7 linked regions of the Homo sapiens genome follow. The protein of the gene in region 1 purifies or fractionates together with the protein of each later gene. This does not show direct contact. Each region holds a gene or a part of one and is shown in the gene's direction. Other genes may lie near its edges. The genes, in order: ARRDC1, KCTD17, NEDD4L, CUEDC1, KCTD5, GLMN and YAP1.

Evidence for each region.
Region 2: the proteins of ARRDC1 (region 1) and KCTD17 purify together in Homo sapiens (affinity purification with mass spectrometry; 4 studies listed by BioGRID and IntAct, with this or other methods). This does not show direct contact.
Region 3: the proteins of ARRDC1 (region 1) and NEDD4L purify together in Homo sapiens (affinity purification with mass spectrometry; 5 studies listed by BioGRID and IntAct, with this or other methods). This does not show direct contact.
Region 4: the proteins of ARRDC1 (region 1) and CUEDC1 purify together in Homo sapiens (affinity purification with mass spectrometry; 4 studies listed by BioGRID and IntAct, with this or other methods). This does not show direct contact.
Region 5: the proteins of ARRDC1 (region 1) and KCTD5 purify together in Homo sapiens (affinity purification with mass spectrometry; 3 studies listed by BioGRID and IntAct, with this or other methods). This does not show direct contact.
Region 6: the proteins of ARRDC1 (region 1) and GLMN purify together in Homo sapiens (affinity purification with mass spectrometry; 3 studies listed by BioGRID and IntAct, with this or other methods). This does not show direct contact.
Region 7: the proteins of ARRDC1 (region 1) and YAP1 purify together in Homo sapiens (affinity purification with mass spectrometry; 5 studies listed by BioGRID and IntAct, with this or other methods). This does not show direct contact.

What each region holds. Positions count from the first base shown.
Region 1 is NC_000009.12:137,608,686-137,612,185, forward strand, and holds part of ARRDC1 (arrestin domain-containing protein 1), read left to right. Parts: intron 1-3,500. UniProt on the Homo sapiens protein: Functions as an adapter recruiting ubiquitin-protein ligases to their specific substrates. Through an ubiquitination-dependent mechanism plays for instance a role in the incorporation of SLC11A2 into extracellular vesicles.
Region 2 is NC_000022.11:37,054,742-37,058,241, forward strand, and holds part of KCTD17 (BTB/POZ domain-containing protein KCTD17), read left to right. Parts: intron 1-1,578; coding exon 1,579-1,670; intron 1,671-2,656; coding exon 2,657-2,752; intron 2,753-3,500. UniProt on the Homo sapiens protein: Substrate-adapter for CUL3-RING ubiquitin ligase complexes which mediates the ubiquitination and subsequent proteasomal degradation of TCHP, a protein involved in ciliogenesis down-regulation.
Region 3 is NC_000018.10:58,050,726-58,054,225, forward strand, and holds part of NEDD4L (E3 ubiquitin-protein ligase NEDD4-like), read left to right. Parts: intron 1-3,500. UniProt on the Homo sapiens protein: E3 ubiquitin-protein ligase that mediates the polyubiquitination of lysine and cysteine residues on target proteins and is thereby implicated in the regulation of various signaling pathways including autophagy, innate immunity or DNA repair.
Region 4 is NC_000017.11:57,861,413-57,864,912, reverse strand, and holds part of CUEDC1 (CUE domain-containing protein 1), read left to right. Parts: intron 1-1,627; 3' UTR 1,628-3,500.
Region 5 is NC_000016.10:2,696,023-2,699,522, forward strand, and holds part of KCTD5 (BTB/POZ domain-containing protein KCTD5), read left to right. Parts: coding exon 1-21; intron 22-1,883; coding exon 1,884-1,975; intron 1,976-3,500. UniProt on the Homo sapiens protein: Its interaction with CUL3 suggests that it may act as a substrate adapter in some E3 ligase complex. Does not affect the function of Kv channel Kv2.1/KCNB1, Kv1.2/KCNA2, Kv4.2/KCND2 and Kv3.4/KCNC4.
Region 6 is NC_000001.11:92,250,488-92,253,987, reverse strand, and holds part of GLMN (glomulin), read left to right. Parts: intron 1-3,500.
Region 7 is NC_000011.10:102,204,447-102,207,946, forward strand, and holds part of YAP1 (transcriptional coactivator YAP1), read left to right. Parts: intron 1-1,446; coding exon 1,447-1,628; coding exon of another isoform or gene 1,629-1,640; intron 1,641-3,500. UniProt on the Homo sapiens protein: Transcriptional regulator with dual roles as a coactivator and corepressor. Critical downstream regulatory target in the Hippo signaling pathway, crucial for organ size control and tumor suppression by restricting proliferation and promoting apoptosis.

The sequences.
Region 1 (3,500 bases):
CCCTGGGAAATTCACCCAGCCTGACCTGAAGCAGTTGCTGAGAGGCAGAGGAGCAGCTCCAGGTGTTTTGGCAGGGAAGCAGCTGGCAGCTGTGCGGGAGCCCCTTGCCTCCCGTGTTCTTACTGAGGAGTGTGTGGGGCAGCTCGGGACAGGTTTCACTTTGGACAGTGGTTGGAGGCTGCTTACTCTGGCAGAGTCATCTCAAAGAGCCTTGGTGTATGTGCAAAACGGGGCCATCTGCATGGGCGTTGGGAAGATCACAGAACCTGGACCCTTAGGATGACCCAAGGGTCAGTTGCATACTGTTTGTTTTTGTGGAGTCAATGTCCCATGACGGTTTTCGCGATGCTTTGCTAGTAGGAGCAGTGGCGTGTGAGGCTCCCGGTTAAATACCATGAGATTCTAAGCGGAATTCTGGGTCTCCTGGTATGCACAGGTAAAATTACAGTAGACCTGTCCCACTCTTTGCCAGAACCTCGTACTTGTCTGCAGTTTGACTGGAATAAGGGGTGTTTGTGTTCCACCTCCCTCCAACGTGTGTTGAGACATTTATTTATTTATTTATTTATTTACGTTGCTCTTGTTACCCAGGCTGGAGTGCAGTGGTGCAATCTCAGCTGCTCACCGCAACCTCTGCCTCCCTGGTTCAAGTGATTCTTCTGCCTCAGACTCCCGAGTAGCTGGGACTACAGGCACGCGCCACCAGGCCTGGCTAATTTTGTATTTTTAGTAGAGACGGGGTTTCTCCGTGTTGGTCAGGCGGGCCTGGAACTCCGAACCTCAGGTGATCCGCCCGCCTCAGCCTCTTAAAGTGCTGGGATTACAGGCGTGAGCCACTGTGCCTGGCCCCAAGACATTGATTTTATTTGAGATGAGGTCTCACTTTGTCACCCAGACTGGAGTGCAGTGGTACAATCTTGGCTCACTGCAACTCCTTCCTCCGGGGCTCCCACCACAGCCTCCTGAGTGACTGGGACCAGGGGCACGCGCCACCACACCCAGCTAATCTTTGGTAGTTTTGGTAGAGATGGGGTTTCACCGTGTTACCTAGGCTGCTGTCACACTTCTGGCCTCAAGCAATCCGCTCGCCTTGGCCCCCCAAAGTGTTGGGATTACAGGCGTGAGCCACTGCGCCCAGCTGTGTCGAGACATTTAATATTTGTCAATCTGATGGATTGAAATGGTAGGTCATTTGGGCTTTCCCTGCAAGCTCCACCTTCCGGGTTCACGCCATTCTCCTGCCTCAGCCTCCTGAGTAGCTGGGACTACAGGCGCCCGCCACCACACCCGGCTAATTTTTTGTATTTTTAGTAGAGACGGGGGTTTCACCGTGTCAGCCAGGATGATCTCGATCTCCTGACCTCGTGATCTGCCCGCCTCGGCCTCCCACAGTGCTGGGATTACAGGCTGAGCCACTGCGCCCGGCCGGGTTTTCTGTAATTTCTAGTGAGGTTGGACATCTGTTCCAGTTACCTACTGCTACGTAAAAGTCGCGGTCACCTCAAGTCAGACACCATTCTTAAAACAGTTAACACAACCATTTTATTATATCTCACAGCGTTGTGGGTTAGGAATCTGGACAGTGAGGGCAGGGTTAATCTTCAGTTCTGTGCCACCAGCTGGGATCACTTGAGGGTGCTTGGCTGGCATACGGGTTAGTCTGGGGACCACTGCCCCCTTTCCGGCATCCTCTGTGGGTTCCAGCATTTTTCTTTTTTTTTTCTTTTTGAGATGAAGTCTCGCTCTGTCACCCAGGCTAAAGTGCATTTGTGCGATCTCAGCTCACTGCAACCTCTGCCTCCTGGGTTTAAGTGATCCTCATGCCTCAGCCTCCCAAGTAGCTGGGATTACAGGCGTGTGCCACCATGCCTGGCTAATTTTTGTATTTTTTTTTTGAGATGGAGTTTCACTCTTGTTGCTCAGGCTGGAGTGCAGTGGCGCGATCTCGGCTCACTGCAACCTCCGCCTCCCAGGTTCAAGCGATTCTCCTGCCTCAGCCTCCCTGGTAGCTGGGATTACAGGCATGTGCCACCATGCCCAGCTAATTTCGTATTTCTAGTAGAGATGGGGTTTCTCCATGTCGGTCAGGCTGGTCTGGAACTCCTGACCTCAGGTGATCTGCCTGCCTTGGCCTCCCGAAGTGCTGGGATTACAGGCATGAGCCACCGTGCCCGGCCTTTTTTGTATTTTTAGTAGAGATGGGGTTTCACCATGTCAGCCAGGCTGGTCTTGAACTCCTGACCTCAAGTGATCCACCCGCCTTGGCCTCCCACAGTGCTGGGATTACAGGTGTGAGCCACTGCACCCAGCTGGGTCCCAGCATTTGCGGGATTCAAGGTGGGGATGTGCAGTCTGTCAGGAGTGTTAAAAGCACGGCAGCATTTCCAGTCCCCAGGCCTCCTCTCCTTGCTTCAGCCACGCCCACCCTCCTCTGTGCCTGCTCATGCCCATGTGCTTCTGTTGGGCTGTCTGCTGGTCCACAGGAGGATTACTGGTGTTCCGGATTTTCAGCATGAACACAGTATGGGGTCTGGCCCGAGGAGGGCCTGGCTAACAGAGCATGGATTCAAAATCAGAGCAGAGCTGGGTACCGTGGCTCATGCCTGTAATCCCAACACTTTGGGAGGCTGAGGCAGGTGGATTGCTTGAGCTTAGGAGTTTGAGACCAGCCTGGACAGCATGGCAAAACCCTGTCTCTATAAGAAAAACAAAAAACAAAAAACAAAACCCAGGTGTGGTGGCACGTGCCTGTAGTCCTAGCTACTTGCGGGGCTGAGATGGGTGGATCGCTTGAACACAGGAGGTTAAGGCTGCAGTGAGCCGAGATCGTGCCACTGCACACTAGCCTGGGCGGCGGGAGTGAGACCGTGTCTCAAAAACAACAACAACAACAACAACAACAAAAAAACAAAAAATGGACCGAGGTTGGGGTGGCAAGGCTGGGCTGGAATGGAGGCTGAGGACAGGCCCTGGCAGCGCCCGGGGGTAGAGGGCGTGCAGCAGGAAGCAAGGGCCACCCTCAGGGATGGGGGACTGGGCCTGGCAGCTGCCGAGGGGTAGGCAGGATGCATGTGGAGAGCCACGTGGGGCTGCGGCTGAGCCAAGGATTGTGAGAGGAATCCTGCTGCTCTGGGTGGCAGGCAGAAGGCCTGGGCCACAGGTGGGGCCTGCTGGGGAGACCACAGGTGAGGCAGGTATGGCTGACCCTGGGCGCTCGGCACACCGGTACTCCTCCTGCCTGGCTGCTCCCTCAGCAGGTGTCAGAGTCTGAGTCACCTTTTCCTCACGTGACCCCCACCAGGACCAGGCAGGGAGGTGGCCATCTTTGGCCCTGACTCAGCCCTGCAGGGAGAAGAGGGGCTGGAGGTGCAGGTGGCCTGCCACTGTCTCCCCCAACCCCTGCCCACCTGGGTCTTGTGCTGTGTGTACTTCTGCTGCGTCTGTCCTCCCTTGTGACCAGCTTCTGCTGGACCTGATTGTCCAGCCATGATCTTCTGATC
Region 2 (3,500 bases), on another chromosome or scaffold:
GCAGTGCTAGCTGTCTGTCACCTGCAGGGCTCCGCCCAGGGCACTGGGGATAATTCTCGTAATCAGGCAGCTGCACTCCCTGACCTCCTGCTCTGTGTTTGGTCCTGTGTGGGCACCGGGGACAGAGGGCAGATCAGAAATGTGAGCCCCATCTTAGCCATTTCAGGCTGCAATCATGAAGTAACATAGATTGGGTGGCTTATGAAAATCAGAAATTTATTTCTCTTGGTCCTAGAGGCTAGAAACCCGAGATCGGGGCACTGTGGCAGGTTCTGGTGAGGACTTTCTTCCGGATTGCAGACTGCTGACTTCTCGTTGTGTCCTCACATGGCAGAAAGAGAGGGAGCTAGCCCTCGCCCGCCCCTTCTCGAGAGCTTGTTTGGAGGTTCTAGCAGGGGAGCGCAGCTACTCACATACCCTTGACCAAAGTCCGGTCCTCCTCTATCGGGGGTGGTCGCCCCCTTCGATGGAGCTCACAGCTTCGGGAGGGACACACCTGGAGCAGTGAGGGAGGAAGGGGACACACATCTAGCCAGCCAGATCAGCTAAATCAACCCTGGTGATCAGTGGAGTGACAGATGTCCCCGCCAGATCGCCCTCACATCCAATTAGCCTTTCTTATAAGAAGACTGATCCTACCCTGGGGACTCTACCCCCATGATCTCATTACCTCCCCTCCTAATCCCATCACAGTTTTCAGCAGGTGGATTTTTGGGGAACACACACATTCTGCTCATAATGAGCTCTGTCCCCAGGGAGCCCAGAGGCCAGTCAAGGAAAGGGCCCAAAGGTCCCCTGCCTTCTGGGAGCCTAGGGGAGTCGAAACAGCTGCAAGCTCATCGCTTCACTGGTGGGCTGACTTCTTCATCTCCCAGATTAACTTAACTGTAAGATGGGGACAGTAATGCCTGCTCTCCTCATATCCCTGGACTTGTGATGAGCTCGTGCAGGGTGTTGCAAACTGTAAGGTGAGGCAGTTGGGGGAATGCATGGACACAAGGGTATGTGCTTACAGTGGGGAGACATGGGCTCTGGAGTCTGCAGCGCTTGAGTTCCCTCTGGCACTTACCAGCTGTGTGACCTTGGACAAGCTGCTTCTCTTTGGGAGCCTCAGTTTTCCCAGTTGTTCAATGCAGATGATGAAAGTACCTCCTTCTAGTTCTGAGAATTCAAAAATGTAATGCACCTGGCACTTAGAATGTGCTTAATAAATAGGAGCACATAATCAGGGGTCAGGCAAGGCCCTGCTCATGGTGACATTCTGGGGATCAGTCCCAATGACCCTGCTGTCTCTTGATAGCCCTAAAGCTGCCCCAGACGGTGGCCTGGCAGGTACCCCTGGGTCACCGCACTCAGCACAGCAGAGCTGTGTGGCAGCCCCTCAGCCCCTTCCACAGGAAGTGTGGGATCCAAGGAAAGAAATGCTCCCTCTTACTTGACCCCTGAACTCACAGACACTCAGCTCACCCTCAGGGCGGGTGATCAGAGCGAGAGGTGGGTTTCGGGGTGGAGGGAACAAGAGGAGAATGGGGCATGGAGGCAGAAGGAGTGACCTGGGATCTGTTCTGTCTGTGCCAGGGGTCCTGGAGGAAGCCGAGTTCTACAACATCGGCCCGCTGATCCGCATCATCAAAGACCGGATGGAAGAGAAGGACTACACGGTCACCCAGGTCGGGAGCAGGGGCAGCACACACGGCCAGGGCAGGGGCCAGTGGGGAGAGAGAGGCTGAGAGACGGGGCGGGAAGCAGAGGAGGTTGGGAGAGACAGGACCAGTGTTTGTCATGGGGAGGCCGAGCTGGCCTGTAAGGAGAGGCATGGTTGGGCTGACAGGCTGCCCAGCACAGCCCCAGACTCGGAGACGGACACTGGGGTTCAGTCCCTGTCTCAGCCCCATTTGCTGTGTGTTGGGCCAGGCTCGCCCTCTCCGGACCTTGATTTTCTCTTATGGGATAGAGAGGGGTGGGAATGGCACACCCATCCCTTCCTCATAGGCAGAAGGGGGTCAGTGTGGAGGTACAGGGTGCCCTGCAGAGGAAAATGCAGGATTAGCAAATTGTGCCTTTTGTGGCATCAGATGGTCGCCTGGTGGGCTCGGCACAGGCTGTTGGGGCTGGCGTTTGTGACCTTGGAGCCTGGGCCTCCCTGGCCAGTCTGCAGGAGGAGGGAAAGAGATTTTCCGCCTACTCTGGGGGATGTGTGAGGGTTGGGGGACAGGTAGTGAGGAACCATTTCTCAGGCCCAGGGGATTAAAGAGGGGAGGCTCCGTGTCTCCTTGAGGGCCTGACTCCTTGAGGGTGACCCAGAATGTTCCCTAAGCCCCACCCATGTTCTTTCTTGAATTACCCGTGTTCCGGTTCTGTCTCCTTCACCCTTGAGCTGGGTGACCTTGGGCAAGTAACTGGACCTCTCTGAGCCTCAATGGAAAGTCCCGTAATGCCTAGGATTCTTGGAAGGATTAAGTGAGATGGTGCCTGGTAAATGCCTGGTGAGGAGCAGGTGCTCAGAGCATGGCTGCCTCCCCCCAACCACCTCTTCTTTCTCTCCCTCTCTTCTTCTTTGGGTATGTTGCGGGGGTGGTGGCAGCAGGTGCTCATGCCCCTCCTGGGGTGCCTGGTGCTCCCACAGGTGCCCTCTATGTGACCCTTCTGCCCACAGGTCCCACCCAAGCACGTGTACCGCGTGCTGCAGTGCCAGGAGGAGGAGCTCACGCAAATGGTCTCCACCATGTCTGATGGCTGGCGCTTCGAGCAGGTGCGCTGGGGACAGGGGCGTGCCACCAGGACAACCCTGGGACCTCCTAGCCTCTGACCAAGCAGGCCCCTCCCTTCCTGCAGCCCCAGCCTTGGGTTCCCCACCACAGTCTCCCCCAACCCCAGGGTTCTTCTGAAATCAAATTAAACAAGGTTAGGAGAGACCACACTTGGTGGCAGGTTGACCGAGAGAGAGGATAGGAGCCCCAGTGGCCATAGGACAGCACGGGGTGTCCTTGTTGGTGGGAGTCCTCACAGCAACTGGGTGGTGATCTATCTGGTGGCATGAGTGAGTCTGTGGCCCCCGAAGGACAGCTCAGGTGCAAGGAGACCAGATCCACATAGGTGAGTGGAGTCCACATTGAGTCAGTACCTCTTAGAACTCAGAGTCAGCATCATGCGATCATAGCAGTTCCTGACACAGTTTTCAGGGTCTCCGCAGGGGACATGCCCAGTGGCCAGCATTGCAACATGCAGGGGAGCCCAAAGCAGTGCCTTCCCATGAGGTCTTTATGGTGAACGGTGGTTCCTCCCAGTCCAGATGCAGTTTACCCATCGGGAGATCCTTATCCCGAGGGACTTTATCCCTAGTCATGCAGCTGACCTCCCACCTTTCAGGTTTCCAGAGGAGCAGAGCCAGAAAGTGAGCCCAGGGTCAAAAGTGCCTTTAGAGAAGGAGAGGGGGTTGGCTAGCCTTTCTCCACGCCCACCCACACGTTCCCTGGCACATGGAGACTGCAAGGCAGAAG
Region 3 (3,500 bases), on another chromosome or scaffold:
GCTCCAGCCTGGGCAACAAGAGCAAAACTAAAAATAAAAAATAAAAAAAGAATAGTAATAGTTTTGCTTAAAGGGTGAGGACAGTGACAAATGGTGATCCTCAGATGACTGTAGTTTCTTTACCATTACAGAATGCAATTCAAATGAAAACCATTGCATGGTACTCAGGCATTTCTTCAATGCAGTGTGTGCCCACATCACCAGGAAGCTTACTTGGGAAAGTTTGTTTTGGGATTCTGGAGTACCTCAATATATCTGGTATATTTTCCCAAGAAAAGTGAATAATCTTGGGGGGCCGAGGTGGACAGATTGCTTGAGCCCAGGAGTTTGACACCAGCCTGGGCAATGTGGTGAAACCCCACCTCTACAAAAAATACAAAAACTTAGTTGCGTGTTGTGGCACGCACCTGTGGTCCTGGCTGCTGGGGAGGCTGAGGTGGGAGGATGGCTTGAGCCTGGGAGGTTGAGGCTGCAGTGAGCCATGATCATGCCACTGCACTCCAGCCTGGGTGACAGAGCAAGACACTGTCTCAGAAAACAAAGGCAAACAAACAAAGATCACCCCAAAGAAGAACTCCCAACATATTAAAAGTCATTGAGTTTTGTACCCTTCAAATGGATGAATTGTGTTGTGTATGAATTACATCTGAATAAAACTGTTTAAAAATATTAAGAATGATTGAGTGTGACATTATTGCAGCAGTACATTGGAGTTTCTGCTAAATTACTTTTGCATTCATTTCAAAAGGAAGCAACTATGCCCATTGCTAATTTAATAACCTGTTTGCTTGTGCGGTGTTTAAAATGGCATCATGAAAACATGGCAATGTGTGATAGATTAAGAGCCAATTAAATTTTTTATTTTGAGTTACAAGATCTGCATTAAACAGATTTTATTGTTGCCCTTGAATTTCCAGTCTTAGATGAGTAGCAGCAGTGAAAAAAAGAGATCCTAACTTAAGAGTTTTCAAGCTTTTTGATGTTGCAGGTATTTGAATAAGTGGGTCTGTCTTACTGAAATATTTGTTAATTAGCGATAAAGCAAACTATATGTTGATCTTTTGGTAGTCCATGCTAAGGAGGATTAGAATAATATATAAATAATATAATGGTAATAAGTATCAGGGCAGGAGGATTAAAGAAGGGTGGAAGAAGTGTGACAAAATGTTACTTTCTGTTTTTACATTGTTTCTCTTCCAGGTCACAACTGTATTTCAAATGTATTTCATTTTCAGACTATAGGTGGCAATGTTTGTGCTGTTCACTGTTTAATGTTACTGTTGGCTCGGGTGTTGCTTGTTGCTGGAATATGGAAATGATAGCATAATTTAGAGTTGAGAATAAAAAAAACTAGATTTAGAAAACTAGAAACTAGATTTAGATTTAGTAGAGACTTTCTAAATAGTCCTAGTTCTGCTGTGTGGACCCTTCTGTAACTTTCTGTTACTCTGAGAAGGAGCTGATAATTATCACAACTACTGGTGTTTGATTAGCAGAGACATTCTTGATTCCTGATGCAAGACCGTGGCTGAAGTTGTAGCAGGGCGTTTGGTGGTTGGCGATGTAAAGATCTGGGCCTCTTGTTTCATGAATAATAGAATCTCACTATGATTGTAATATTTTGTTTTGAACTGGAGTGCTGATTATTGTAATCCCTTTAGGTGAGAAAAGCCTTATTATATAAGTGTATCTGGGGTAACTAGCTTAAATTTGACACTCCAGTCAACTTTTTGTCCCTGACTTCAGTCCTGCATTGATTCAAAACGCACCAAGTTAAATGTCAAGGCTCTCAGATTCCCTTGCTGTCATCAAATTCAGTGTTTGGTGACTTCTTGGCAGGCAGACATCTACCAAGAGATTTTGTATTCTTTTTATACCTCCTATTCACCAAAAGAAAAGGGCCATTCAAAAGTGAGTTTTTCTTTTTTTTTTTTTTTAAGTTTAAAAAGCTATGATGTGGCCACCCATGGTGGCTCATGCCTATAATCCTAGCACTTTGGGAGGCCAGGGCAGGCAGATCACTTCAGGCCAGGAGTTCAAGACCAGCCTGACCAACATGGCAAAACCCCGTTTCTACTAAAAATACAAAAATTAGCTGGGCGTCGTGGCGTGCCCCTGTAATCCCAGCTACTTGGGAGGCTGAAGCAGGAGAATCGCTTGAACCTGGGAGATGGAGGTTGTGGTGAGCTGAGATTGCAACTCTGCACTCCACCCTGGGTGACAGAGTGAGACTTTGTCTCAAAAAAAAGCTGTGATGTGAAACCTGTTCTGTGAAGGTGGAACTTGGAAAGGCTTGTAAGGATGGTGGTCCCATGAAGAGGATGAACAAACCAAGGGAACTGTCCTCTTGCTGGTTTGGGTGATGTCCCATCACCTGTCACTTTGTTTGTTTGGGCTGCAGTGGACCAATGGTTTCCCAGGCACACTGAAGTGACATGTAGATGGATTGCTTGAGTGGCTCCGGCATGTTTCCATCTCCTGTCTACCAGGCAGAGACCGTGTTCCCTGTTTTGAGGGGATCCAGAAGTGCAGTGACAAGGGCCTGATTTGCATCTCCAGCTCCTGGTCTTGCCTGTGTTAACAATTTTTTTTTTTTCTTTCCAGATGGAGTCTCACTCTGTCGCCCAGGCTGGAGTGCAGTGGTGCAATCTCGGCTCACTGCAAGCTCTGCCTCCCGGGTTCACGCCATTCGCCTGCCTCAGCCTCCCAAGTAGCTGGGACTACAGGTGCCCACCACCACGCCCGGCTAATTTTTTTGTATTTTTAGTAGAGACGGGGTTTCACCATGTTAGGCAGGATGGTCTCGAACTCCTGACCTTGTGATCCACCTGCCTCGGCCTCCCAAAGTGCTGGGATTACAGGCATGAGCCACCGTGCCCGGCCAACAATTTTTACATTCTAATTAATTTCCAGTTTCCAACCTGACTCAAGGTTTAGCTCTTCGTCTCTTGGGTGCAGTTTTGGATCATGTCTTATAATGTATATTTAAAAGTGTGTTGTAAAGCTGGAATTCCCATTGTGGGTAAATGCTGAGATTGTTGTAATACTGAGAAGTGCACTTGGGAACCATGGCCAACACTGCCCTAGCTGACCGGAGGTTGCACTGAGTTGTCCCCTTTGAACATCTGTTATGAATGAATGTTGGAAAATGCAAAGCCAATCATTTCTTTTACCTGACCTATGTGATGTTAAGTTTTAGTTTTATGTTTTGGCAAGTGAGTGTTGGATGTCACTAATGTGAGGAGGCCGGTGAGGGCAGACTTTGGGTCAGAGGTAATGTAGGAGATGAAGACCCTTTCTATTAATTTTTCTTGTTTAATTGAAGATGTTCGTGTTGAATGGGTTTTATTTACATGTATAAGTTCTTTTTTTCTTAATGCTGGAAGTTACTTTGGTTTTTCAGAAAATGCAAGTAACCCTAATCTATTTAGAGAATTACTTTGCTTAGTAAGCACTCAGTACTATTTAGTAATGGGGAAAAAATGTGTTTGTGTCCCACA
Region 4 (3,500 bases), on another chromosome or scaffold:
GCTAATTTGTTTTTGTATTTTTAGTAGAGATGGATTTTTGCCATGTGGCCAGGCTGGTTTCGAACATCTGACCCCAGGTGACCTGCCCGCCTGGACCTCCCAAAGTGCTAGGATTACAGGTGTGAGCCACCGTACCTGCACCTCATCATTTATTTCTGTCCTAGGACTTCCAGCTTGTCCCCTTCCAGCTCCTTCTGCAAGTTGACATCCTCCTCCTCCTCCCCTTAAACACCAAGGGTCCTTGAGTCTTCCCTGCCATCCTCCTTCATCCACTGCAGGCTGACAGCCCCTCCCATCACTCGGATTGACTCGGAGGTCACCCAGCAGCTCAGGGCCTTAGCATCTTCTGCATTCTTATGGTGCTCTTCCACACGCACTCCCCTGATCTCTCCTGAAGCTGCCCTCCCTTGGCTCCTGTGACCCCAGGAAGCCAGGTTCTCCTTCCTCTCTCCTGGCTCCTGTTGCTCCGCCCACTCCCTAAATACTGGCTCTCCTTGTTGCTCTGCCCTTGACCCTCTTCGAAGTCTTCTCACTGCCCACTCTGGCAGTGCCTCCGCCCTCTTTTATAGCACCAGCAACACTTCTGCGCATCTGGCTCCTACATCTGAATCTCCATCGCAGTTAGGCTTCCAGAGCTGCTTCGTGTCCCCAGCTGCACCCAAGATTTTCTTTTCAGCCTTGGATAGCAACTCAGTCTCTCCTCCTGACTGCCCCCTTTCATTCTCTTTTCTATTCCTTCCATTACCACCCTGATAGATGCTCATCACCTAGGTCACAGCCCTGTTCTCTTCACTGCCCCTACCTACTCTGATTATCCCACCACCAAAACACCACTTTAGTTCCATTTTTCCTGTGCTCTTTGAATGAATCTTTTTTTTTCTTTTTCTTTTCTTTCTTTTTTTTTTTTTTTTTGAGATGGAGTCTCGCTCTGTTGCCCAGGCTAGAGTGCAGTGGTGCAATCTCCACTCACTGCAACCTCCCCTTCTCAAGTTCAAGCCATTCTCCTGCCTCAGCCTCCCGAGTAGCTGGGATTACAGGCACGTGCCACCCCGCCCGGCTAATTTTTGTATTTTTAGTAGAGACGGGGTTTCACCATGCTGGTTAGGCTGGTCTTAAACCCCTGACCTCGGCCCGCCTCAGCCTCCCAAAGTGCTGAGATTACAGGCGTGAGCCACTGCGCCTGGCCTGAATGAGTCTTCTGAGTAAAGTCTTAGGAACTCTTCAGCCTGGTGTCTGAGTCCTACCAAGTTCTGCCCCCAGTTTACTTTTCTCCACCTACAGGTCTTTGTGGCCTAGCTCCCCTGAGCTATGACGTATTAGAATGGGCCAGGTACCCTCCCACGTTGAAGCCCTCCCCTACAGCTGCTTCACCCCGGGATTCCATTCCTTCACTCCATCTCCTGCTGCCAGAGTCCCTGCAGCTGGGCAAGCTGGAATGGTTCTAGGAATTTGAATGGGGGGATGACCCAGGCAGAGTTCTACGGTTGACCTCGAGTCCCTGGAAAAAGGAGAGGGCTTACGTCTTTAGTAACTTCTCCCAAAACTGTCTCTCCAGGAACCAGTGACCAGGAAAGACCATTGGGCTCCTTTGAAAAAGATTCCTCCCATCCCTTTTTTCCCCTACCAGATGCCAGCAGCTCTTCCTTGCCAGAGATGATCTGACCCGGTGGGGGCAGCTGGAAAGCAACACTGGCCCCCAGCTGAAGGGCCCAGCTGCAGCCAGACAGATGGTGCTTGAGAACCGAGGCCCGGTGATCCTCCAGCCACAGTCCAGCCCAACCACTGCCACTTTCCATGGGACTTAGAACTTCGGAGTTGCTGCCTTGCAATTGGAGGAAGGACCTGGGGCCCCTATAGGCAGCAGCCAATTACAGCCCCTTTTGTAGCCAGGCGTTCCTATGGTCAAAGAGTGGAAATGCAGGAACCAACCTCCCTTTAAAAAAAAAAAAATCCAGAAAGCAGATAAAAGTTGGAATATGGAAAAGGGCAAGATGACCCCCACCAGAGGCTCTTTGGCCTGAAGGTGGAGTCTCTGCCTCCGTCCGTTCTCTATCTCTCCTGTCACAGACTCTGCCTGACCCCCTTTCCTCAGCTCCCTTCTGGTCCCCCTTCCTCAGCTCCCTCCGGGCACTTGTGCCCTTCCCTTCCATGTCCTCCTGTATCTCAGCCTTCCCCCGGGGCTGCTGGCCCAGCACACGAGCCCTGCACCCAGCCTGGGTGGGAGGTCCCTGGCCAGTCCCCCAGGAACTCTGAGGAGCTATGGGCTACTGCAAAGCATCTGCCGACTGCCCTGCCCCGTCTGGCCTCATCAGGCTGCTGCTGTTAGGGATGGGCTCACTCCCAGCAGCTCCCGGTCACCCAGCAGGGATGGGGAGGGTGGCCACCCTGGAGCTGGAGGACTCTGGGGAGGCAGGGTCTTTAATTTGGCAGCAGACAAAAGCCAGTTCTGGAGTCACACCACAGTAGGGGCTCACAGGGGCTCTGACTCCCCAGCTGGACTGGAAGCCCTGCTGTCCGAGGGTGGGCAGCGGTGGGTCCTGGAGTGACCCCTTTGAGCAGGTGCAGGGCTAAAGAGCAAGGCGGAAAGGCCGCCAGCCTGGGTGAGCGCCTAGGGCATAAGGGCTTGCTGGGTGCCCCTGAGAAGGGCGGGTGATCTGAGGAGGAGAACTCTGATTCTAGGAACGCTTACACGGCACTGACCACTGCCACGGGGAGGGAGGCTGCCCAGCCCGTGGCCCCGCCCTGGACATGGGAGCGCGCAGACCTTCCGGAGAGCCGGGAAGCCTGGGCAGGCACGAGGCTTCGGCGCGGCTCTGGGAGGTTGGGAGTGGCATCCGATCCTTGGCCGGGCCCTGGTGGCCTCCGTGGCCCCAAGATCACAAGGGCGTAGCGAAGGCGAGCCGGCGATCGCACCTCGTCCCGCCCACCCTGCCCGGACTCGCAACGCCGAGCTTGGGGAGGGCCGGGACGCGCAGCCGCCGCCGAGCGTGACCAAGTTTGGAAACGCGCGCGGGGCCGGGACGCTGGCTCGGGGGGCCCTGCCGAGGAGCGGTCGCCCCCTCCGCTGCTCCCCGCGCCAGGCCTGGGGCCCTGGAGGGAGGGGGGGGGGTCTCCGAGGAGTGCCTCGGTACCCCAGCTCGAGTTCTCGACGGGTCTCTGAGCCTTCCCCGCGCCAGGACCCGGCGCACTGTGGGGGAAGCCCCAGCCCCATGTCTGTTGAGTGTTGCTTTGTTATTTTTTTTCCTCCTATGTGTGGGTTTTTTCTTGGAGCTGTTTCATAGGAATTCCTGTAATAAACAGTTGGTGTTCTCTTGGTGCTCTGATGTGGCCAGCGGCGTGGGCTGGACCCTCCTGCTCCCTCCTCCCTCCCGGCCTGGGGCAGGGTTTGTCCCCAGGAGCCCCGCGTCGCATCCCTAGGGTACCCCTGCCTTGCCTGGCCCATTCACCCGCGGCGCTCTCCGACTGCACTCTCGAGGTGACACCTGCGGCACCGCTGCACC
Region 5 (3,500 bases), on another chromosome or scaffold:
ACAAAGACCTCGCGGAGGAAGGTAAGCCGAGTTTTGGGCACAGGTGCCTTAGCTTTGGGGGCAAGGGCCCGACAAAGGTGCCAAGGGCTCCACTTAAGACACAGATGCCTGCAGCCTGGGGCCCCAGGGAGGAGCAGGCCCTGTACTCTGAAGCTGGGGCCGACGTTCTGGTGCTGAGGCCACGGGCAGCGGCGCAGCTGCCGGACAGGGAGGCCTGGGGACCCTGTGGGTGTGGGGTCCTCCCTGGCTGCAGCTCCTTGGAGGGCTCCCTCTGTCCAGGCTCCGGCTGGCGACACAAGGGGTGTGAGGGGTTCCTCCCTGCTGTGACTGAGGTGGTCTGAGCGGGTGTGTGAGGCACATGCCCGGTGATGCCCACGGCGTGCTTCAGGGCCTGGTTCCCTGGCCTGCTCTCCCTCAAGGACAGCCCAAGGGTGGTGAATGTCTCTGTGCCATCACCTGGACTGTGCCTGCTGCTGCCAGCTGCCGTGTTCCATTCTGAGTGATCGTGGTGCAGGGACGGCGCCCACACGCGTTGGGCCCAGGCTGGCCTGCCTGTGTGCTGCGGTGCTGGCTTGGCTCAGAACAGCTCGAGGCCTCGCCGTGAAGGCTGAGGGTTTCTGGGCACCTGCGTGCGGGCGTGGCCCTGCTCCCCCGGGTCCGTGTCTGCGCATCGGTCTGCACTGGGCAGCGTCTGACTCCGTTTCTGTTCTGGGCCTCTGGGCCTCGGCATCTGCCTGCCTCCTCCGAGTTCACGCGGGGCGTGGAGTGACGGGGGCTGTGGCCCAGCCCTGCCCCTGCTCTGAGGCTGTGAGCCATGATCCCCACTCCTGTCTCTTTGGCAGGGAATGTCTTTCACATGTACTCTCTCTGGTCGCTTGGGCAGCCGCTTGTGTTGTCGTGGAGCCGCTCGAGTCGAGGCTTCGCTTTATCTCATTCTGCCCCTAGTGGGATTGGCTCAGAAACGGGCGCTAGACACAGACCAAGGCCCTGCCGCCCAGGCTCACCGGTCTGCCTCTATCCCGCCCCGATGCAGCCACTCACGCCCTGGGTGCTAGAGAAGGGGGCTGTGCGGGACCCATGCGGGGCCGGGAAGCCTGTGTCTCTGAGGCCCTCGTCTCCTTGTCTCTATCCTGCGTGGCCCTGTCCCATGTAGGTGGCTGGGTGTTGTCCTGAGCTGCCATGTGCCATATGTGGGTTCCTCTGGGGTCCTGGAGGAATGAAGACCACCCATGAGGAAGCCCTGAGGCAGGACCTGTGGAATCTGCTCTTAAGGCTCTTAAGGGAGGTTTGCAGTCCCTAAGTGCGGCACATTACGGATGGCAGTCTTTGGGAAGAGCTGGAAGTGACCCTCTCAGCCAGCCACAGTCTTCCCTTTGAATGGGGTCAACTGAGGTGCCAGGTGACTGAGACATATGCACAAGGCCGCAGGCCTGAGCCCCACACAGCACCCCACCCAGTGGCGTGGCCATGAGCAGGTTCCCAGCAGGAAGCGTCGGCCTCCAGGCTTGGAGGGAAAATGCCAGATCCAACCCCCAGCATACCATGGCCTCGGCGTAGACATACGCTGAGCTGCATGTAAGCAGCGGCTCCATACCTGGCGGGTCACTGGAGGTCACTCAAGGTTACCTGGGGTGACCTGAGCTGGAGGTGTTCAGTCCACACATCGGCCCTCTCACCACGGCCCCTCCGCCCATTATCCCAGGAGCCCTGCTGGGCTGACACGTCTGCAGGAAGCCTGTTAGGTCGGGGCCTGAGCAGCTCCCGCTGGGCCGAGCCATGGGCCCTCATTGCAGGGGCAGGGGCAAGGGCAGGGGTGGGTGTAAAGCGTGGATTCTTTGGTTTAGTTTGGTCTGGTAAAGACAATTTATTTTTCCTTATTCCAGGAGTGTTGGAGGAAGCAGAATTTTACAATATCACCTCATTAATAAAACTTGTAAAGGACAAAATTAGAGAACGAGACAGCAAAACATCGCAGGTGAGACAAATGACTGAGGCTGGAAGCTTGTATGGCTGGTGTGAAGGAAGGGCTCCCCTTTACTCCCCCGACCGGCTGCCTCCCAAATAAGTCCTGCGGTCTGGGGCTCTCCTACCCTGAGACCCTTGTCCTCTGTCACTGCCCCAGTGCCTGCCAGCTCCGTCTACCCGGCTCTCCCCAGGGTCCCTTGAAGGATCCATTCATCCTGCCCGGCCCAGACTCTGGGAGCCCCCAAAGGATGGCTCTGAGGAAGTTGGGCACGGGAGACGTGTGTAGGGAAGGAGGGCCCCATGAGGGCCGGTCGGGGAGACCCTGAGGTGGATGGCATCTGGTAGGGAGCAGAGGGTGCCAAGGGCCTGCAGCCAGCATGGCTGGAGGGAGACAGCAGATGGGTCGTGTGGGTCTGCGCAGGCGCCAGAAGGACCTTGGTTTTATTGGGAAGAGGGGCGGCTCGCCACAGACACACCTCTCACAGCTGGCACGGCCCTTCTGCAGCCAGGGGAGCCCAGGTTGTTGGTGGGCTCTGCCCAGTACCTCCTGTGGAGGGGCCACTGCTGGGCCTTGGGCATCAGTCCCGTCCCTGAGAGCTGAGCCCGCCCCCCCCACCCAAGCTCAGCTCCCTTGAGAAGGCACCAGGAGTGGGGTGTGTGCCGCACTGTGGCCGCGGCTGCCATCAGAAGTCTCGGTCCACGTAGAGCCCTGGGCCCTGTGCAGACGCTCCTAGCCTGGCCGCTCAGGGCCGCTGGCCACCTAGCGACTTGCCCAGTTCCCCCTCCTGCTGGAGCTCCCTTGGTGCCACTGAGGGATCTGGAGGGGCTCCTTGTCTGTGGGGCAGGAGCTGCGTCCCGCGCCCCGGGTCACCTTGTCCAGTCTGCTTTTTTCCCTGTTGTGTGACCGGGCTGTGTGGGCACTCCCTGCCTCAGTCTACCTACCTGTATGACGCAGGTGGGCAGGAAATGGTGCAGGTGGGAGAGTCTGCGGTCCAGCCTTGCTGTGACACAGTAGCATCTCACTGTCTTGCAGAATAAAGCAACTCGGGCATGTGACCTCGAGGCCACTGTGTGCCTTTGTCACTCAGGCATCCCTGGCATGAGTCACCACCTTAAGGTCAGGGACCCAGGACCTCTGAACCCCTTCTCACTGCTGCGTTTCCGTCCAGCCCCGTCTGCAGCCTGAGTCCTCCGTAGTGACTGTCCAGGATGTGGGGCCACCCCGCCCACTGGGGAGCAGCTCCATGCAGGCGGGCGGCCCTGGTGGCTCACCATCACTCCCAGGACCACAGCTGCCTGGAGGGGCACAGCAAGCGTGCCAGGCAGGTGGGGGATTAGGAGGTGGATGGAGTTTTAGGAAGCAGCTCAGCCTTCGGGAGGCCCAAGTCCAGGCTGCCGCGCAAGTTCAAGAGCCTTTTTCTGGTAGCTGGGAGCGAGCTTCGTCTGGCACTGGCTCTCAGGGCCCTGCTTGCCAGAGCCTTTCCCGACCGATGAATTCAGGGCTGCACGGTTGCTGCGTGCGGAGCAGACGTGGA
Region 6 (3,500 bases), on another chromosome or scaffold:
ACATGCTCCTTTAGCTTGGAGGAGTTTGTTATTACTCAACTTCTGAAGCCTACTTCTGTCAGTTCATCAAACTCATTCTCTGTCCAGTTTTGTTCCCTTGCTGGCAAGGAGTTGTGATCCTTTGGAGAAGAGGTGTTCGTGTGCTTGGAATTTTCAGCCCTTTTCCGCTGCTTTTTCCTCGTCTTCGTGGATTTCTACCTTTGGTCTTTGCTGTTGGTGACCTTTGGGTGGAGTTTTTGCTTGGGTCATCCTTTTTGTTGACGTTAATGCTATTGCTTTGTGTTTGTTAGTTTTCCTTCTAACAGTCAGGCCCCTCTTCTGCAGGTCTGCTGCAGTTTGCTGGGGGTCCACTCCAGACCCTGTTTGCCCGGGTATCACCATTGGAGGCTGCAGAACAGCAAAGATTGCTGCCTGCTCCTTCCTCTGGAAGCTTCATCCCAGAGGGGCACCCGCCAGATGCCAGCCGGAGCTCTCCTGTATGAGGTGGCTGTTGACCCCTGCTGGGAGGTGTCTCCCTATCAGGAAGCACGAGGGGTCAGGGACCCATTTGAGGAAGCAGTCTGTCCCTTAGCAGAGCTCAAGCGCTGTGCTGAGAGATCTGCTGCTCTCTTCAGAGCTGGCAGGCAGGAATGTTTGTCTGCTGAAGCTGCACCCACAGCCACCCTTTCCCCAAGGTGCTCTGTCCCAGGGAGATGGAAGTTTTATCTATAAGCCCCTGACTGGAGCTGCTGCCTTTCTTTCAGAGATGCCCTGCCCAGAGAGAGGAGGAATCTAGAGCTTAAGTTTTTTTTCAATTTCCATTTCTATTTAAGATTCAGGGGTGCAGGTTTGGTACAGGGGCATATTGTGTAAGTTGTTTCTTTCTCTAAGATAAAACATATCCATGAAATATTTGCAGAGCCGGATGACTTCTATATGAATTAGAAGAAAGGGGAAACCTGGGTCTTGTTCATGGCTTTTTATTTCTTCATTACCATCACTGACTGTATTCTTTGCAGGGTTCCTGACTGTTCTGGCAATAAATTTCATTGTAGTGTAGAACTGCCTAGTCTTCCTTTTGTGAGAGAGATATGCTACAGTGAATTTTGAAATGTATAGTTTTAAGCCTTAGAACTGGAAATCAGTAAGCCTCCTTGGGTATGAAATTAAAAGCAGGTATTTGTGAACATTTCAAATTTTTAATTATAACTATTTTAAAACTCTTAATTTACTTTTTCTAGACACTGAAAGATTTTAAGAAATCTTAAAATGTGATTTTCTTTGTAGTATTTATTATTTCTTTAAAAACGATCTGGTAACCTTGAGAGAAAAAATATTCTTATTCTCACAGCTTCTTCACTCCTACATGCTTCTAAAAATATTACAGTTTATCATCTGAAAAATTTGTGGAATTATGCTGAACAGAATATGTAAAAAATTTCTTTAGGCTACTTTTGGCATGTGTTTTTATTACCTGAAGTTTTATGATTATGGGCTATTGCCATTGAAAACAGCTAAGGTTTTAACATTCAAAGATCTAGATTTGCACTGTCCAATACAGTAGACAGTAGACACATGTGACTATTTAAATTTATATTAATTTTTTTTTCCTTTTGAGTTGGGGTCTCACTCTATAGCCCAGGCTGGAGTGCAGTGGCGCAATCACGGCACATTGCAATAACAACCTCCTGTACTCAGGTGATCCTCCCATCTGGGATTACAGGCATGAGCTACTGCGCTGGGCCAGTACTCTTTATTAATATGTGATTATTTCCATTTGAGAAATTTGAAACATTAAAAGAAAACGTTTGGTTAGAGATACATTTGCTTTTTAAAGTCCTGATTTAGTAATTTGGTTAAAATTTTTGGCTGAAGAGAATTAGTGAAGCTTAATTGTATATTTGTACCAATGAATGATTATAAAACTTTATCACTGTAATCCCAGCACTTTGGGAGGCTGAGGCGGGCAGATCACCTGAGGTTAGGAGTTAGAGACCAGCCAGTCCAACATGGCGAAACCCCATCTCTACTAAAACTACAAAAAAATTAGCTGGGCATGGTGGCAGACGCTTATAATCCCAGCTACTCTGGAGGCTGAGGCAGGAGAATTGCTTGAACCCAGTAGGTGGAGGCTGCAGTGAGCTCAGATCATGCCTCTGCACTCCAGCCTGGGCAACAGAGCAAGAAGACACCATCTTAAAAAAAAAAAAAAAAGTTTTGGGAATCAGATTTAAAAGAATTTCCATTACAAAGTAAAACTGAAAGGATGAAAGAAAAAAATTTTCAACTTAGAACTTCTACAAGAGGAAAGTTTTTCATGGATACAAATTCTTTGGTTATATTTTTGCAAATATTCCAGTCTGTGGCTTGTGTTTTAATAGTATTTTTCAAAGAACAGAAATTTTAATATTTATGGAGTCCAACTTATCAATTTTATTCTTTTATGATTCATTATTTATGGGTTCTAAGAAGTCTTTGTTAACCCAGATCACAAAGGTAATTTCTTGTAGAAATTGTATAGTTTTAGGTTTTACACTTAGGTCAATGACCCCATTTCAAGTAAACTTTTTATGATATGAGATATGGGTTGAGAGATTTTTTTTTCTTTTATTTTGACCTCAACACTATTTGTAGAAAAGGTTATCCTTAATTTACTGAATTATCTTGGCAACTTTATCAAAAATCATTTTATAAGTATGGGTCTATTTTTGGACTCTATTCCATTTACCTGTATCTATTCTTTTACCAATACCACACTGTCTTGATTCCTTTATAGGAAGAAATTATTCTGTTTTATTCCTTTATAGGAAGTCTTGACCTCAAGTAATGTGAGTCTGCCAACTTTGTTCTTCTTTTTCAAAATTGTATTGGCTATTTTTAAATCCTTTACCTTTTCTGTATAAATTTTAGAATTTTGTCAATTTCTGCCACAAAGAGTTTTAATTCCACTTATGGCATTCTGGAAAAGGCAAAAATTACCTTAACAAAAATCAGATTGCTGGTTGCTGGAGGTGGGAGGAAACTGACTACAAAGGGGCACAAAGAAATTTCTGGGTCATGGGAATATCTTTACAGCAGCAGTGGTTACATGACTTTATATCACTATATATCTTTGTCAAAGCTCAGAATTGTATAGCTAGAAGGTTATATTTTACTGTATGTAAACAATATCTCAACAAACCTGACTTTGAAAAATAATAAAAAGAAAAGAACTAGGCTCAATAGTGAATTAGACTGAAATTACCTCATGAACAGGCAAGCACACTGATTATGTAAAAATCTTTCTGATGTTTACTTTTGAATTGTTTATTCTCCATTTTTCTACATTAAAGTATTAAGATTAAATGTGTTATATGGAAAGGATTTGAGGGAAAACTTTTATTTCAACTATATAAATAAACGTGTGAGTTGTGATGTAAAACCTAGTTTTTACTGAGAGTCATGGCAAAAATAATTTGAAAAACAGTATCCTAGAAAAACTTTTACCCCGTGTGAATGGGAAAACATACAGCAATGTAAAT
Region 7 (3,500 bases), on another chromosome or scaffold:
AGCATATAAATTTGTAAGTAAAAAATTAGAATCAGGCAATAAATGTCAGTAGACAATATGGAAAAGTTCCCAGGCAATTCCTTGAGAGAAGAAAATTCTTAATGTATAGGATGGGCCCAGCCTTGTGAGGTTTTGCTCAAGTAGTCTCCAAGAAGAAATGGCATTTACCAAGCAGCCAGTCTGTTATAATGGGACACATTAAAAATCACAAGGAGTTTGCTGTGTGACTGGGAGACCATTAAGTTATAAGAGCTGTCAGTGTATGTTATTTAGGATTTTTGTAGCAAGGTTTATATGAGAGATTGGCCTGTAATTTTCCTTTCTTTTAATATCCTTGTATGGTATCAAGGTTATGCTGGCCTTATAAGTGTTGGAAAGTATTCTTTCCTTGTTATGCTCTGGAAGAGGCTGTGTAAGACTGGTATTATTTCTTCCTTGAATGACTGCAAAGCCATTGGGACCTGGGGTTTTCTTTAGTCAATGTGTACTAAACATTTAGTAGAAACAGTGACCCAAAATTTCAACTTAAGTTGAATATGTATCTGAAAAGGTTTATTATTCTTACTAACATTTTCACATAAAACTTCCCTCTGCTCACTGAGGTTAATTCACAGTTTGATCAGTGTTGTATCAGTGACAGAAATTCACTAGTATAAAAACCCAGTCCATTTCTAACCACCAAATGGTGTATTACAGCTTCAAAAAAAAATTTTTTTTTTTTTACTACCTAGGCTTTGTGCTGGGGGTTACCATGGTGTCAAATGAGACAAATCCATGTCATCCAGATACTTGTGGACTCAATTTGATATGAGCAAGCATCAGATCATTTTAATCTACTTGCTTTATTGGGATGTGTATGTGGATATATTAAGGGCTGATTATTTTGATGGGCTTTGCTGTTTGGAATGCTTTGTCTTAATTTTTGTGGATGAATTTTTAATTTATATATTTCATAAGAAGTAATGAATTTGCATCATTCACACTTCAGAAGTTATAAATAAGGTTCTCCACCTTTGTCCTTTAGTCACCCAGTTTCCCATCTCTGGAGCCAAAAGATGTTAGTTGCTTCTTAGCTATTCATCAATTTTTATATCCTCTGAATATGCAATATATTCACCCCCGCTCCCTTCCCCCACCCCGTTTTTTTTAAACACTTTCTCTTCTGCACCTTGCTTTTAATTTAGTAAGTCCTTAGAAACTGTTCCTTATTGCATGTTAAAACTACGTCTTGTTTCTTTTCTCTTATGACTTCCTTGTATCTTGTGACAACAGTAATAATAAATTAATGTAGTCATTGTGATATTGATGGATTTTTAGGTTATTTCCAGTCTTCCTGCCCAAAAAAGTTACATCGAATATCCCAAATTGCTTTTGAATAATTAAATCATCATTTTATCTTCCTTCACTAGTTTTTTAGGACAGATTTTTTTTTTCTTTTCATTTCAGCCATGAACCAGAGAATCAGTCAGAGTGCTCCAGTGAAACAGCCACCACCCCTGGCTCCCCAGAGCCCACAGGGAGGCGTCATGGGTGGCAGCAACTCCAACCAGCAGCAACAGATGCGACTGCAGCAACTGCAGATGGAGAAGGAGAGGCTGCGGCTGAAACAGCAAGAACTGCTTCGGCAGGTGAGGCCACAGGTTAGAAACCAGCCTTCCACTTTTGGGGGTTTGTTTTCTTAAAGTTGGGCAGATTTCATTTTAACATTTATTAGTTACAGAGGAATGTTGTCTTTGTAAAACTGAGTGACACAGAAGCATTCTATCCAGCCCTGTCCTTGTCTTAGTTTTGTGACTGTGAATGGCCTTTGATCAAGTTACAAGGGATGTGACTTGGAAACCTGTATCATGAAGAGCTGTTTTGGTCATGGTCATTGCAATTGAGCAAAAATTGAAGGAAGCAAGGATGCTTTCTCTAATGTACATGGAATTGTGGATTGCTGTTTTTCTGAGGATTTCACTAAAGGGGAAATTCTAGAACATCACTCAGGAGAAAACATCCTTTATTAATAACTTACGTGGCGGGATACACCAATATGACATTTCTCAAATGACAAATATACTTCGGTATTACCGAATCTAAGAATTTTCATTGAAAACAAAATAAATGTTACCTTTGGCCAGGTGCGGTGGCTCATGCCTGTAATCCCAGCACTTTGGGAGGCCAGGGTGGGCAGATCACTTGAGGCCAGTTCAAGACAAGCCTGGCCAACTTAGCGAAACCCCATCTCTACTAAAAATAAAAAAATTAGCCAAGCGTGGTGGCACACACCTGTAATCTCAACTTCTCAGGAGGCTGAGGCACAAGAATCACTTGAGCTTCGGAGGCAGAGGTTCGGTGAGCCAAGATTGTGCCACCGCACTCAAGCCTGGGTGACAGAGTGAGATTCTGTCTCAAAAACAAAAAGTTATCTTCAAGTTTAGAAGATGCCAGTGTGCTTTAAAATTACCTGCTTATGGATGTTTTTTTATTTTGGGGAAAGTAGGACATAGTAGAGAGCTTTGAAGCCCTTTAATCACCAATTCCATCAGCTTTCTTCCAGAAGGTACTGTTGGTTTTTATGTTCCTAATATATATAATTAATCTCAACATTAATTTTTACTTTATCTTATTTCAGAGTGGTTAAATCTACTAAGTTCAGATATTGGAGATAAGGTCTTTTGTTAAGTAGCGTAGATATTTTTAAATTTCCATATAAAATTTTTTTGAATAGATAATAGAAAAATGGTATACTAGTGATAGATGTACAGAGGTGAAAGTACACTCAAAATAAGATCTTTTCCCTGTTTTTCTAGTTCTCTCCTATGGGGCCTAAATAACTATGAGTTTCTTAGGTTTTTTGTTTTTTGTTAATTTTTCCAGAGATACTCTGTTTACATACATAAAATACATGTATCTGTGCCATTTTTTCCCTAGCTAAATCACAGCATGCTAAGTATAGACATTTAAAAATCGTCATACTCGGCCAGGCATGGTGGCTCATGCCTCTAATCCCAACACTTTGGGAGGCCGAGGCAGGAGGTTTGCTTGAGCCCAGGAGTTCGAAACCAGCCTGGGCAACATGGCGAGACTCTGTCTCTTAAAAAAAAAAAAAGCTCTACATTTCTGTTACCAGGAAGGAGGCACCTAAAGGTCTGTTTTTTGTTTTTTGGGTTTTTTTTAGGGCTGTATTTTAAAAGTATCTCTTGAGTGTCAGTGAAAATATGTGAACTCAGTACTACCTGAACTCTGATTTGGGGTTTGAGGAATTGGTACTTCAGGAGTTAAATTAAGCCATGGCATCTGAGACAGGCTCACGTTGAAACTGTGCTTTGTCGGTAATCTGTCCATACAATTCTAGTGTGATTGGCATCAAAGGTAAACCCTGATAGAAGGAGTAAGACAGTATGTGCCAACATACGATGTCAGGAACTTGTTGGGGCTCAGAAAATGATACTCCAAAATATGGTTCTTTGACAAACTAAGGAAGCAGCCTCAAGTTCTATGCCAAAGCACAGGAT